Homo sapiens: one gene and its partners. The protein of the gene in region 3 interacts with the protein of the main gene of each other region in a pairwise test. Each region holds a gene or a part of one and is shown on either strand. Other genes may lie near its edges.

What was found.
Region 1: the proteins of SLC10A6 (region 3) and TMEM218 interact in binary tests that used the Homo sapiens proteins (3 or more experiments, as listed by UniProt).
Region 2: the proteins of SLC10A6 (region 3) and CDIPT interact in binary tests that used the Homo sapiens proteins (3 or more experiments, as listed by UniProt).

The regions. Positions count from the first base shown.
Region 1 is NC_000011.10:125,109,511-125,113,258, reverse strand, and holds the start of TMEM218 (transmembrane protein 218), read left to right. Parts: upstream 1-1,632; 5' UTR 1,633-1,720; intron 1,721-2,512; exon of another isoform or gene 2,513-2,615; intron 2,616-2,709; exon of another isoform or gene 2,710-2,768; intron 2,769-3,748. UniProt on the Homo sapiens protein: May be involved in ciliary biogenesis or function.
Region 2 is NC_000016.10:29,861,206-29,864,953, forward strand, and holds the start of CDIPT (CDP-diacylglycerol--inositol 3-phosphatidyltransferase), read right to left. Parts: upstream 2,022-3,748; 5' UTR 1,653-2,021; coding exon 1,610-1,652; intron 1,516-1,609; coding exon 1,381-1,515; intron 55-1,380; coding exon 1-54. UniProt on the Homo sapiens protein: Catalyzes the biosynthesis of phosphatidylinositol (PtdIns) as well as PtdIns:inositol exchange reaction. May thus act to reduce an excessive cellular PtdIns content.
Region 3 is NC_000004.12:86,842,742-86,846,489, forward strand, and holds part of SLC10A6 (sodium-dependent organic anion transporter), read right to left. Parts: intron 1-3,748. UniProt on the Homo sapiens protein: Transports sulfoconjugated steroid hormones from the extracellular compartment into the cytosol in a sodium-dependent manner without hydrolysis.

The DNA of each region.
Region 1 (3,748 bases), on a different chromosome or scaffold from region 3:
CCTGTTCCTACTCATATGCTAGGACCCAGCATTAGTTCTAGCTCTATGATAAAGACACACACATTAATTCCAGCCATAACAAAATATCCCCCAAATAATACAAGGGAAGAAGTGCTCTGGAAACTACGAAATGTTCTGCAAATATGAAGTATTATTATATTTTGGAGAAATTAATTGTACAATAGGGTTGGCCCATTGTTATATCTTGCTTTAAAGTGTTTCCTACTTGTTTCATGTGTTGTTGACCTAACATTACAAAACCACGGGCTATTAAGATGGGAGTCACATCTCATTTCTTGTATATCTTCGCAGTTCCTAACAGAACATAGCTGCAGTCAACACTCAGTTCCAGTGAAATGAATTCATCAAAATAAAGGATTTCTTAGCCACAGAGCTTCTCACTGGGCCAAGTAATGTTAAGTTGCTAAACGCACAACAAATCATTGGTTACTTTATGTGATTGTAAATGAAGCCTCGAAAGTTGAATAAATTTGAGACGTGCAGTTGATGAAATTCAAGCATCTTCTTCTTTTTGGTTCATAAAGCTGTGATTCAGGAGAATTCCTTAAATCAGAGATTCAGTGCTCTAAGATTGAATAGGTTGCTTCATGATATTTCTTAAAATTTTGTTTAAGGTCAAAGGTTCAAACGGTGCAGCTCTCCAATTTGGTATTGATTATTGTTTGTTTCCCCTTCTTGATTCAGTGGTGGAGCACGCAGCCTCTGTCCTACTTCCTTTGGTTGTCCTGATTGATGCATCTTTTGGTCTAACAGGCCATAGCCTCAAAGCAAAGTCATGGCAAGCTTTAGTTGGCAGTTAGGTAACAGCAGTCTGCCAATAGCGTGGGCCAGCTCCAGTTCCAGCAGCCTGGCGGCAGAGGGTTTACTTGATGGACCCTGGGCCTCTTCCCCAGTCTGTCCCGTGGGTAGAATGATCTTTGCCTTTGTCTGTTTCGCAAGGCTAATGGAAGAATTAAATACCAAATAAAACAAGTCGAGATAAAGATAAATGAAGCGTGCCGTTATTACAACTGGTGCTTCGTCCTCAGTTCCCTCCAGGAGGGTTGTTGGGGACACTTAATGACCGGGCCTGAGCTGACTTGTCCACCACATCTTGCGCCCCACTCGAGCTAGTGGGTTGGGGATTGAGATGTTCATCAGGCCCCGGAAAAGGCATTGATGTCTAGATGACTGTGCAGTTCTCTGGAGTTCGAGATCTGAGCTGCCTGGCCCTGCTGCTTCGCTGCCTGGATGGGCAATCTCTATGGTGACAGCGAGTGAGGCCGGAAGAAGTCTCTCTCTTCCGCCCAACAACCCGCCCTCAGGCTAGACTGACCAATGGCCCAATGAGTTACGGAGAGATGGTGTGATTGACAGTGGAGTGGCGGGGGGGCGGGGAGTGCAGCTCGGACCGCTGCTACCCAACCGAACTGAGGTCGGTCCAAAGGCTGACAGGCACCGACCAATCGGAGGGCGTAACGAAGGGTGACGAGCCAACCCACCGCGCTCGGCGTTGCCGGGAGCCGCGCTAGGCGTAAGCTAATGAGGAAGAAGTTGGCCGTTGAAAGAGCAACGCTGATTAGTGAATCTTAAATCACCTAAATGAAAGCCCACTTGTGATTCGCCCTAAGTAAACCAGAGCCCCGTGGGCTGGAACGCGCCGGAATCTGAGGTGTGAGTAGAGCCTGGGGGAGAGTGGATCCAGGTGAAGGGGGCAGAGGTGAGGAAAGCGGGGCGGCTGCGGGGAAGGGAGAAAAGTGGAGGGTCGGGCTGAGGTGGTTGGAAGAAGGCGTGGGCGGACGGCGGTGCACGGACCTCGCAGACCACCCTTACCGCTGATCTGGACCCAAGGCCCGGCTAATAAATACTTAATTGGAGGCAGAGAAGGAAGGACTGTTTTGTTTCATGCTCTTAAGAAAAGGAAGTGTCAGTGCCTGATTCAGATCTCTTATGACCGAGACCTTAATCCCTCTCTAGCTCCTGGGAGGTGGCCAGGTGCACATTCTGAAGACGAGACATGGGGGGCATTGTTTTCCTGTCGCCAGTTTGAATCTGCAACAGGGTTGGGGAGAAGCTTAGAGTTCAAGTGGGGTGTTCCCAGGCTGCAGTGCTGTGAGATCCAGAGAGCGGATAGACCGAGGCTCTGCAGCGCTTCCAACCCACAACACCGTCCAGGAGAGGGATGCAAGGAAGAGACCTAGGTTTACTGATCCTCCTTTTTCTATCAACGTGTTAAGAGCAGATGCTACATCGGTGGCATTTTGGGAGCTTGGCAACTGATTTTTTCCCCAGGCTTGCATTTTATCTAATTACAAAGGTAGAGGCGTTATTCTAATATTTTAAAATTCAAAAGATAGTGAAGTGTTTAAAGTAGAAACATAAAAGTGTGAAAGTAACCCCCCCCCCCCGTTATTTTTGAAGGTTTGGAAAACAGCTATAAAGCAAAGTGAAAAGGACTCTTCCAGAGGAGCACTTCACTCCTTGTAACCCACTGTTTTCTGTTGCTTTCAAGGGCTTGAGTCAGTGTGAAAATCGGGGGATGGGTGAGATATCTCCCTCCAGCAGCAGCACTTAGGCCACATTACCCTCTGAGGAATCCACATTTGTCTTAGATAGTAAGTCATCTTATAAGTCATCTTATAATGGCAGTTAGTATTCTCGCTCATGATGATCAACCTGGTGATGAGTACCGTATTTTTAATCCATTAGGTTACCTGTGCAGGGATCAGTCCATTTATTCCTATTTTCTCTGACAGCTGGATGAAAGGGTATGTAGAAACAACCATTAAATGAACACACACATCTAAAAGGTTTTGAACAAACTCTCTCAGAGAAAAACCTCACAGCATTGAGCACAGAAGGAAAACATTAGCCCTGTAGTTGCTTTTGTTGTCAGCTGCTGAACTGTTCAAATTTAAATTATTTTTTTTCACTCCAGTCTACCTGCTTTAAATGCCACAGATATTAAGTAAATGGACTTACCCTTGAAATCGGGTTGGCCAAGCCATCACTTCTCAAAGAAGGTTTAATGATGGCATGAACCCGTTTTTATATTTTATTGTATTGTACTCAATAACAATAATTTAGCTATTCTAATATGGGAAATTATCACAGATATTATTCTCACATTTAAATAAGATAAAAATGACTAGATGTTCTCTCTTCCTCTATAGCAGCACTCTATACTATACCCAGCCCTTCTTTTCTATGCTTAGTAAGAAAATGTATAGTTTGCTTATAAAATTATGAGCTCCATTCTTAAAAGAGCTTGGGAATATTTATCTTATTACTTTAAAGCCATACCATATATAAATCCAATGTCTCACGAACTCTTAAGCTACTAAGGGGGATTGAAGGGCAACATTTCTAATGGCGCCAGCCAGCTTCAACTACCATTTGCCCTCTATTCTAACTGTTAGAGTTGGTCCAAGTCTTCTGGGTTATTTGTGTAATATCCAGAATAGCACAAATTAAATTTAAATAGTTGTTTTCTTAAGAGCAGTACCATCAGCTCAGTCAACTAAGCTAGAAACTTGTGTCATTTCTAACACCTTCTCCCTTGACACAGCTAAGACTGGAGGTCAGACCCTCATCATCTCTTATCTGGAGAATTGCAATAGTTTCCTAACTGGTCACCCAATTCATATGCATCCTGCTGCCCATTACCTTTTTAAAAATTAAAAATTATCACGAAAAATTTAAAAACAGAAAATAGTACATTGGGTAGTATAATATCTATGTTCCACCA
Region 2 (3,748 bases), on a different chromosome or scaffold from region 3:
ACATGGTGGAGCAGCGGTCCGTCAGCATGTCCAGCATGGCCCCAAACCGGGTTCCTGGAAGATTAGGTGGGCAAGGGCTGTTATGGCACAGTGGATGCAGGACAGGTGCCCATATTTGGTTTATCACTCTGACGCAGGGTGTAAACGAAGACTGGAAGTGTCCGCCTGCCTGGGGAGGAACGCAGGCTAGAAAACAGGCTGTGTGTGAGGTCAGTGGGCAAAGGTCACCATGGCATGAACTGAGAAAGGCATGAGAGTGGAGGGAACAGGGTAGGAGGAGAGGAAAGCTATGTCTGCAACTCATCAACCCCAGAACCAAGACTCCAGGGCTAGATAGAGACTTGATGCCTCAGGGGAAGCCTTACAGTTGGGTCTGGAGAACAGATTAAAAAATTAGTCAACCCTCCAGAAGCCATCACCCTTCCCTCTCCATCCTCCCTCTAAGCATGCCTTCTGGAACCCCAACTGCTTATGCAGGGCACACAGTAGGCCTCCAGTAAACACCTGTTGAATACACTGTTTTTTGTTTTTTGTTTTTTTTTTTCCGAGACAGAGTCTTGCTCTGTCGCCCAGGCTGGAGTGCAATGGCGCAATCTTGGCTCACTGCAACCTCCGCCTCCCGGGTTCAAGCAATTCTCCTGCCTTAGCCTCCCGAGTAGCTGGGATTACAGGCACGCGTCACCAAGCCCGCTAATTTTTGTATTTTTAGTAGAGACAGGGTTTCACCATGTTGGCCAGGCTGGTCTCGAACTCCTGAACTCGTGATCCACCCACCTCGGCCTCCCAAAGTGCTGGGATTACAGGCGTGAGCCACCGCCCCTGGCCTGAATGGACTTGTATTCAGAGAGACCTCCAGCAGCGCCACCGCCATGTCATGTCTTGCTAATCCACACCTCTCACAAGCAGTGAGTTCTCAAGAGCTAGCTTAAATTCCTTTTGCTACAAAATCAGTCCATTCTTGCTGGGCGCGGCACTTTGGGAGCAAGGCAGGAGGATCGCTTGAGGCTAGGAGCTGGGGACCAATCTGGGCGACACTGCAAGACCCAGTCTCTACAAAAATTTAAAAATTAGCCGGGTGTGGTGGCACGCTCCTGTAGTCCCAGCTAGTCAGGAGGCTGAGGTGGGAGGATTACTTGAGCCCAGAAGATGGGGGCTGCAGTGAGCCATGATCGCGCCACTGCACTCCAGCCTAAGTGACAGAGCGAGACCCTGTCTCAAAAACAAAAAAACAAAACACAAAACAAAAAGCCCCAGGCCATCCTGTTCTGCTTTTTCCAGAGATGGGAATGACAGCCCTCTGACTCTGAGGTCCCGAGGAGGCAGGGGAAGGGAGGAGGGGATTGTTGAACCCCAAGGCTGGCTGAGAGGGGTGTCTGTCACCTTGATTAAGAGCGCGAGCAGCGTGTCCATCGAAAGCGTCCAGCAGGCCGCTGAGCAGGTAGAAGGAGGAGGCCGTGAGGGGGCAGCAGGGCATGAAGTAGAAAGAAATGATGGCGAAGACAATCCGGGCATAACCTTGGAACGGGACGCGGGGAGACAGGGCAGGATCAGGGAGCCCGCCAAGGCCCCTCGCCCTCTCGTTCGGCCCGGGGCCGTGGGCAGCACTCACCGATGAGGTTGGGCACGAACAGGAAGATATTTTCGTCTGGCATCGCGGCGCCTCCCTTGCTGCCCCGGGCCTGCTCTGGAGATGCCAGTGCTGTCCCAGCCCCGCAGCGCGGCCTCAGCCTCCGGCCCGGCGCATCGGCCGCACCACCTGCGCCCTGGACCCCGCCGCCCCAACCTGGCCCCAGATGCTGAAGCCCGCAGCCGTCGGGAGCATGGACCGGCCCCGAGGTGCGCGGGACGCAGGGGGCGCGCGCAGTCCGCCCTTCCTACCCGCAACCTCCCTCGCCTCTGCCAGCCCCGCAGGCGCTCCGGGCCTCCAGCTGCGGTCGCCGCTGCTCCAGCTGCGCGTGGCTTCCGGGAACCTCCTCCTCCGCGCCCGTCGTTGCAAAATTGGAGAGAGGAAAAAGTGGCTTAAAAAAATAGTTGCGGCCCCTTTAAGGCCTGTCGGCTTCCTTTCCCTTTTCCTCCCTCCGCCCCTCTCCCTTGGCTCGTACCAAAGCGCAGAGGAGGAGAGGGAGGAAGGAACCATTAACGTCAAGCAAAGTTAGAAACGGAAAAGGAAAGGGTAAAAGAGAAGACCGAATAAAAATCTCTGCTTTCCTTTTGTGGAGGGTATGACTTCCTGGAGGCAAAGATAAGGCGATAAAATTCCTCCTCCTGAGTCTTTGCGTCCCCAAGAGGCCAGGAGATTTGGTGCAGTCCTCACTTTACTCCCCGCCCCCTAAGTCTCCAGCCGCCTTTGCTCTCGCAGGCTCTAGGCGGCTAGAGAGGCTCCAGAGCGCCCTGCAGATGGGTTGCTTTTCGCGTGCCCCTTGTGATGGGAGGATTAGGTCGCAGGCTCCACCCTACGTCATCCTCCCAAGCTTCTCAAGCGTCTGGCGCTTGGGGTCACTGCCCTCAAGGAGGCACCTGGAGGGGTACGGAGGGGAGGCTGGAGGAGCAAACGGGGCGCGCTAGGAAATTCCTCTGTCTTTAGTTCTAGAACCCCTGATCTCCTAGCAACGAGGCTGCGGAACCTCTGCAGACTCCAAGGGTTTTATAGCGTCCGGTAGCGACACGGAGCCGGCTCCCCCTTTTCCAGCCTTCCTCCCCATCTCCCATTCTCCATCCCCCACGACCTATACCAGAGGTCCTTAGGCCTCCACGTCTCTCCTTTTGCCGAGTAGCCCAAGGTTTCCACCCATCTGCCAGGTCTGGGGCGTCAAGTCGGCTGCCTCGGCTTGGGAAGGTGCTTGGGAGGGAAGAAGGAAGGAGAGGCCCACCAGGCGAAGGGGTGAGGGGTAGGGGGTTGCGGGAGTTCCCTCTCACTCCCGAAGATATAAAGCAACCTTTATTATTATTATTATTTTTTCTTGTGAGAGGGAATGAGGCAGCGGGATGTTTCCTCTAAAGGCCTTGTTTAAACCTGGGCCCGGGGAATGGTGGTGGACTGGGTTCTGGGGGAAAGCGGGCTGGTTTCTCAGGTCAACTCAGGCTTCGACTGTTCCCAGGGGGATGGCGTCCACTCCGATGGGGAATGAGGGGGAGAAGAAGAGCAGCTGGCCATCTCAAGCTGCACCCTCCTTGAGAGGAGGTCCGGTGAGCACTGCAGGGAACCCTAGAGGTGGGAATGTAATGAAGTGAAAGCCTCCCAGGCAGAGGCACCCCGTGCCAGGTCTGAGCCACGGGCCCTGAGACTCTAGCCTCAACCCTGAGTCCTGAAGCCCCGACTCATAGCTCTCAGCACTAGGCCCTGACTCTAAACCCCCACCAAACCCCCCTCCCCCAGGTCCAGAGCTTTCTAGCTAAATCTCAAGGCCCAGTCCTTCAGGAGCAAGCTCCTTGGACCCACAGGCCCCAGCCTGGGAACTCCCACAGCCAGCACTCCCATGTGGGAGCTCCCAGGCTGAACCCCTCCGGCTTTTCCTTTCCCAGGCTTCGTTATCTCGTTCTGAGGAATACCTGTCCCAGATCAGTGCAGAACTCATGGAGGAGGCTTTGTGCACTGCTTGCTGCCACTTGAACCCTGTGCCCATCAAAAAAAAGCAGTCACAAGACCAAGCGACTCAGATATCCAAACGCGGTAACCCCCTGCCTCAGGACCACCGTGTCTAGAGAACCGCTGCCCCCACTATGCCTGGTTACAGTCCCTGACCCCTCC
Region 3 (3,748 bases):
GACAGTGGGAGCTGTCCTGAGTTGCATCAATAAATGGACACCTCTTTTCTTTCTTTCTTTCTTTCTTTCTTTCTTTCTTTCTTTCTTTCTTTCTTTCTTTCTTTCTTTCTTTCTTTCTTTCTTTCTTTCTTTCTTTTTTTTTTTGAGATGGAGTCTCGCTCTGTCACTTGCCCAGGCTGGAGTGCAGTGGTGTGATCTCGGCTCACAGCAACCTCTGCCTCCTGGGTCCAAGCATTTCTCCTGCCTCAGTCTCCTGAGTAGCTGGCATTACAGGCATGCATCACCACACCTGGCTAATTTTGTATTTTTAGTAGAGATGGGGTTTTGCCATGTTGGCCAGGCTGGTCTCGAACTCCTGACCTCAAGTGATCTGCCCATCTCAGCCTCCCAAAGTGCTGGGATTACAGGTGTGAGCCACCACGCCTGGCCTGGACCTCTTTTGAGGGTTGTTTTTGTAATACACACAGGCAATCGGAAACTGTCATTCACTCATTCACTCATGTTTACCGAGTGCCTACCACTACCTGGCTGGTACTGTGCAAGCAAAGATGAGCAAGCCTTCCAGGAGCTTACAGATATAGTAGGTGAGGCAGACAAGTAGCCCAGCTATTGCAATGCTTTCCAACAGATGATAAGGAAGAGTTACATAATTCGGATTATGGGGACAGACAAGAGAAACATTTCTGGGCAGTAGTTTCAGGAGAAACTACGGTAGAGGAAGGGGGACATTTGGACTTCATATTTTGCTTTGCTTTTCCTATAGTCACAAAATACTTAATATTTAACCTCAGATCCACTCCTAAGCATACACTCAAGGGAAATGAAAGCTGAGACTCAACAGTATTATTCACAATTGCCAAAAAGTGGAAATAATTCAATTGTCCGTTGATGGATGAATAGATAAAACATGACACATATATATTATGATATATCATTATATACAGGGTTAGGGTTAGGCATGCAGCTCCTTGAGCAGGGACTAAAACACAGACCCAGGACACGATGTTCTTTTGCCTGCCTTATATAATAATAATAATAGTTCATATCACATTTTATGCCAAGTGAGATTCTAAGCACTTTAGAAATATTAACTCATTCAATCCTCTCAACAGCTCACGATGTAGGAATGCTTCTCATTTTAGAAGTGAGGAAACTGGCCGGGCTCGGTGGCTCACACCGGTAATCCCAGCACTTTGGGAGGCTGAGGTGGGCGGATCATGAGGTCAGGAGATCAAGACCATCCTGGCTAACATGGCGAAACCCCATCTCTACTAAAAATACAAAAAATCAGCCAGGTGTGGTGGCAGGCGCCTGTAGTCCCAGCTACTCGGGAGGCTGAGGCAGGAGAATGGTGTGAACCTGGGAGGCAGAGCTTGCAGTGAGCCGAGATCACGCCACTGCACTCCAGCCTGGGTGACAGAGCGAGACTCCGTCTCAAAAAAAATCAAAATAAAAATTAAAAAATAGAAGTAAGGAAACTGAAGCATAGAAAATGTGCATAATCTGCCGAGATGATCCAGTCAGTAAGTGATGGGTCTGCTTGCTGTTTCCAGAGCCCTTAACTACTACACCGTACTGCCAGATCTTAATTTTCATGTTCTACCCTCAAAGGTAGGAATTCTGTCCATCTCTAGTAGGATATATTGGGGAAAAAAATGCCCCCTATTCTTCACCCCTCCCTTATCCATGTCCGCTGTAATGTGACTTGGAAGTTCAGCCCATCAAGAGGCAAAATCGACTTTCCTAATCCATGAAGCTGGACTGGCCTTGCAGTCTGCATTGGCCAATGGAATGTGGTGGAAGGAAGAGGATCTGGTTTAAAGCCAACACTTCAAAAGACCTTTTCTGCTTTGCCTTTCTGAGAACCCTGCTGCTGCCATGTAATCAGGTCTAGGCTAGTCTACTAGAAAATGAGAGATCATGTAGTAAGAGAGCCCAGTTGTCCAGGTTGAAGCCACCTGCATTAGTCCATTTTCACACTGCTGTAAAGAAATACCCAAGCCTGCGTAATTTATAAAGGAAAGGGATTTGATTGACTCACAGTTCCACATGGTTGGGGAGGTCTCAGGAAACTTACAAACATGGCAGAAGGTGAAGGGGAAGCAAGGACCTTCTTCACAAGGCAGCAAGAGAGAGAAGAAGAACAAAGGAGGAACTTCCAAACACTTATAAAACCATCACTCACTATCATTAGAACAGCATGGGGGAAATCAACCCCATGACCTGATCACTTCCCTCCCTTGACACTTGGGGATTCCAGGCCCCTCCCTAGACACACGGGAATTACAATTCGAGATGAGAATTGGGTGGGGACACAGAGCCAAACCATATCACCACCCAAGACCAGTCTACATTTAACCAACCCCAAAATATGTAAAAGAACCCAGCCATGATCAGCCAAACTCGGCCCAGAGGCAGGATAATTTTTAAGGCTCTTCATACATATCAGCCAACTGCTTTCTAGGATGGTTATAAGGAAGAACAACATCATGACTGGAGGAGACAAAATAAGGTCAGTTGGCACTGCAGACTGTGGGAACAACATGGGCAAAAGAAAGCTGGAAGAGTGTGAGATATGCTCAGAGAACTATGAGCAGCCCATTTTGACTAAAAACCATTGTTCTTAAGGGGACTAGTGGAATAAAAGAACCTGGAGAAGTAAAGTAGACTGGCTTAGTCGTTTCTACCAATTTAGTAGGTGTTGAGAAGCCTTTGTATGTATAACATGTTCGTTTTCTCCTAACAGTACCATGCGGGTAATGTTATGATTTCCAGTTACAGAGAAGAGGCCCAAGGTCAGGATTTGAATATAGGCAATCTGGTATCAGAGCCTGCCTTATCCACTTACTGCAAAGCCGTAATGGAGAGACTAAAGGTGCAGAGAACAGCACTTTCATTGTTGTGAAAATACAATTAGCCAAGAAAGAAATTGTGAGGGCCTGACCTGAGGAAGTGTTAGTGGAGACCAACAGGAAGCAAGAACTGTGAGCAACACAGCAAGAGGAAGGGCTACAGGGCTTGGCAGTGGATTGAGTGGCCATGGCGAGAATGAGGGTAGTCACAGGGCAAGGCTAAGATGACAAGCCCAGGCAACTGCAAGAGGATGGGTGTCATCAGTCATCTCATTTGCAGAACGCACAAACCGGTTCCAACCAATGGATTCTGAAATGCCTGTGTGGGGTGAACACATGGAGAACTGCAAGTGCACTGCATGAAGCAGGAGTGAAGGCATGAGAAACGTGCTCAAGGTCATCTGCAGGGAGCTAAATCTCCACTTCCTCGTGTGTCAAATGAAGATGTTGTGCTAACCGCTCTTGGATTTTATCCAGCATTAACAGCAGATAAAACTCCTATCAATGACGATCCACTGAGTTTTGCTTAAAACTGATTTTTTGTTGGTATTCAATTATGAAGAAATGTAATTACTTAGATATTGTTTCACACCGTACTTGATTTTCACCTATTTGAGTTTCTACTGAAAATTGATTTTATTACTTTTGTACCTATAAGCTTCTAAAAATCTAATATTTAGTTTTTGCTTGTTTTTTTAGTTTTGTTGGTAAGACTCAAAATCAAAATTTAGAAAGAAAAGAGGAAAAGTAGCTAATATTTATTGCACAACTACTATGTACCTGGCACTCTGAATACACACACACACACAAATATATATTTCCTCCATAAATATAGTCTTGTGTCAGCCAGGCGCCGTGGCTCACGCCTGTAATCCCAGCACTTTGGGAGGCCGAGA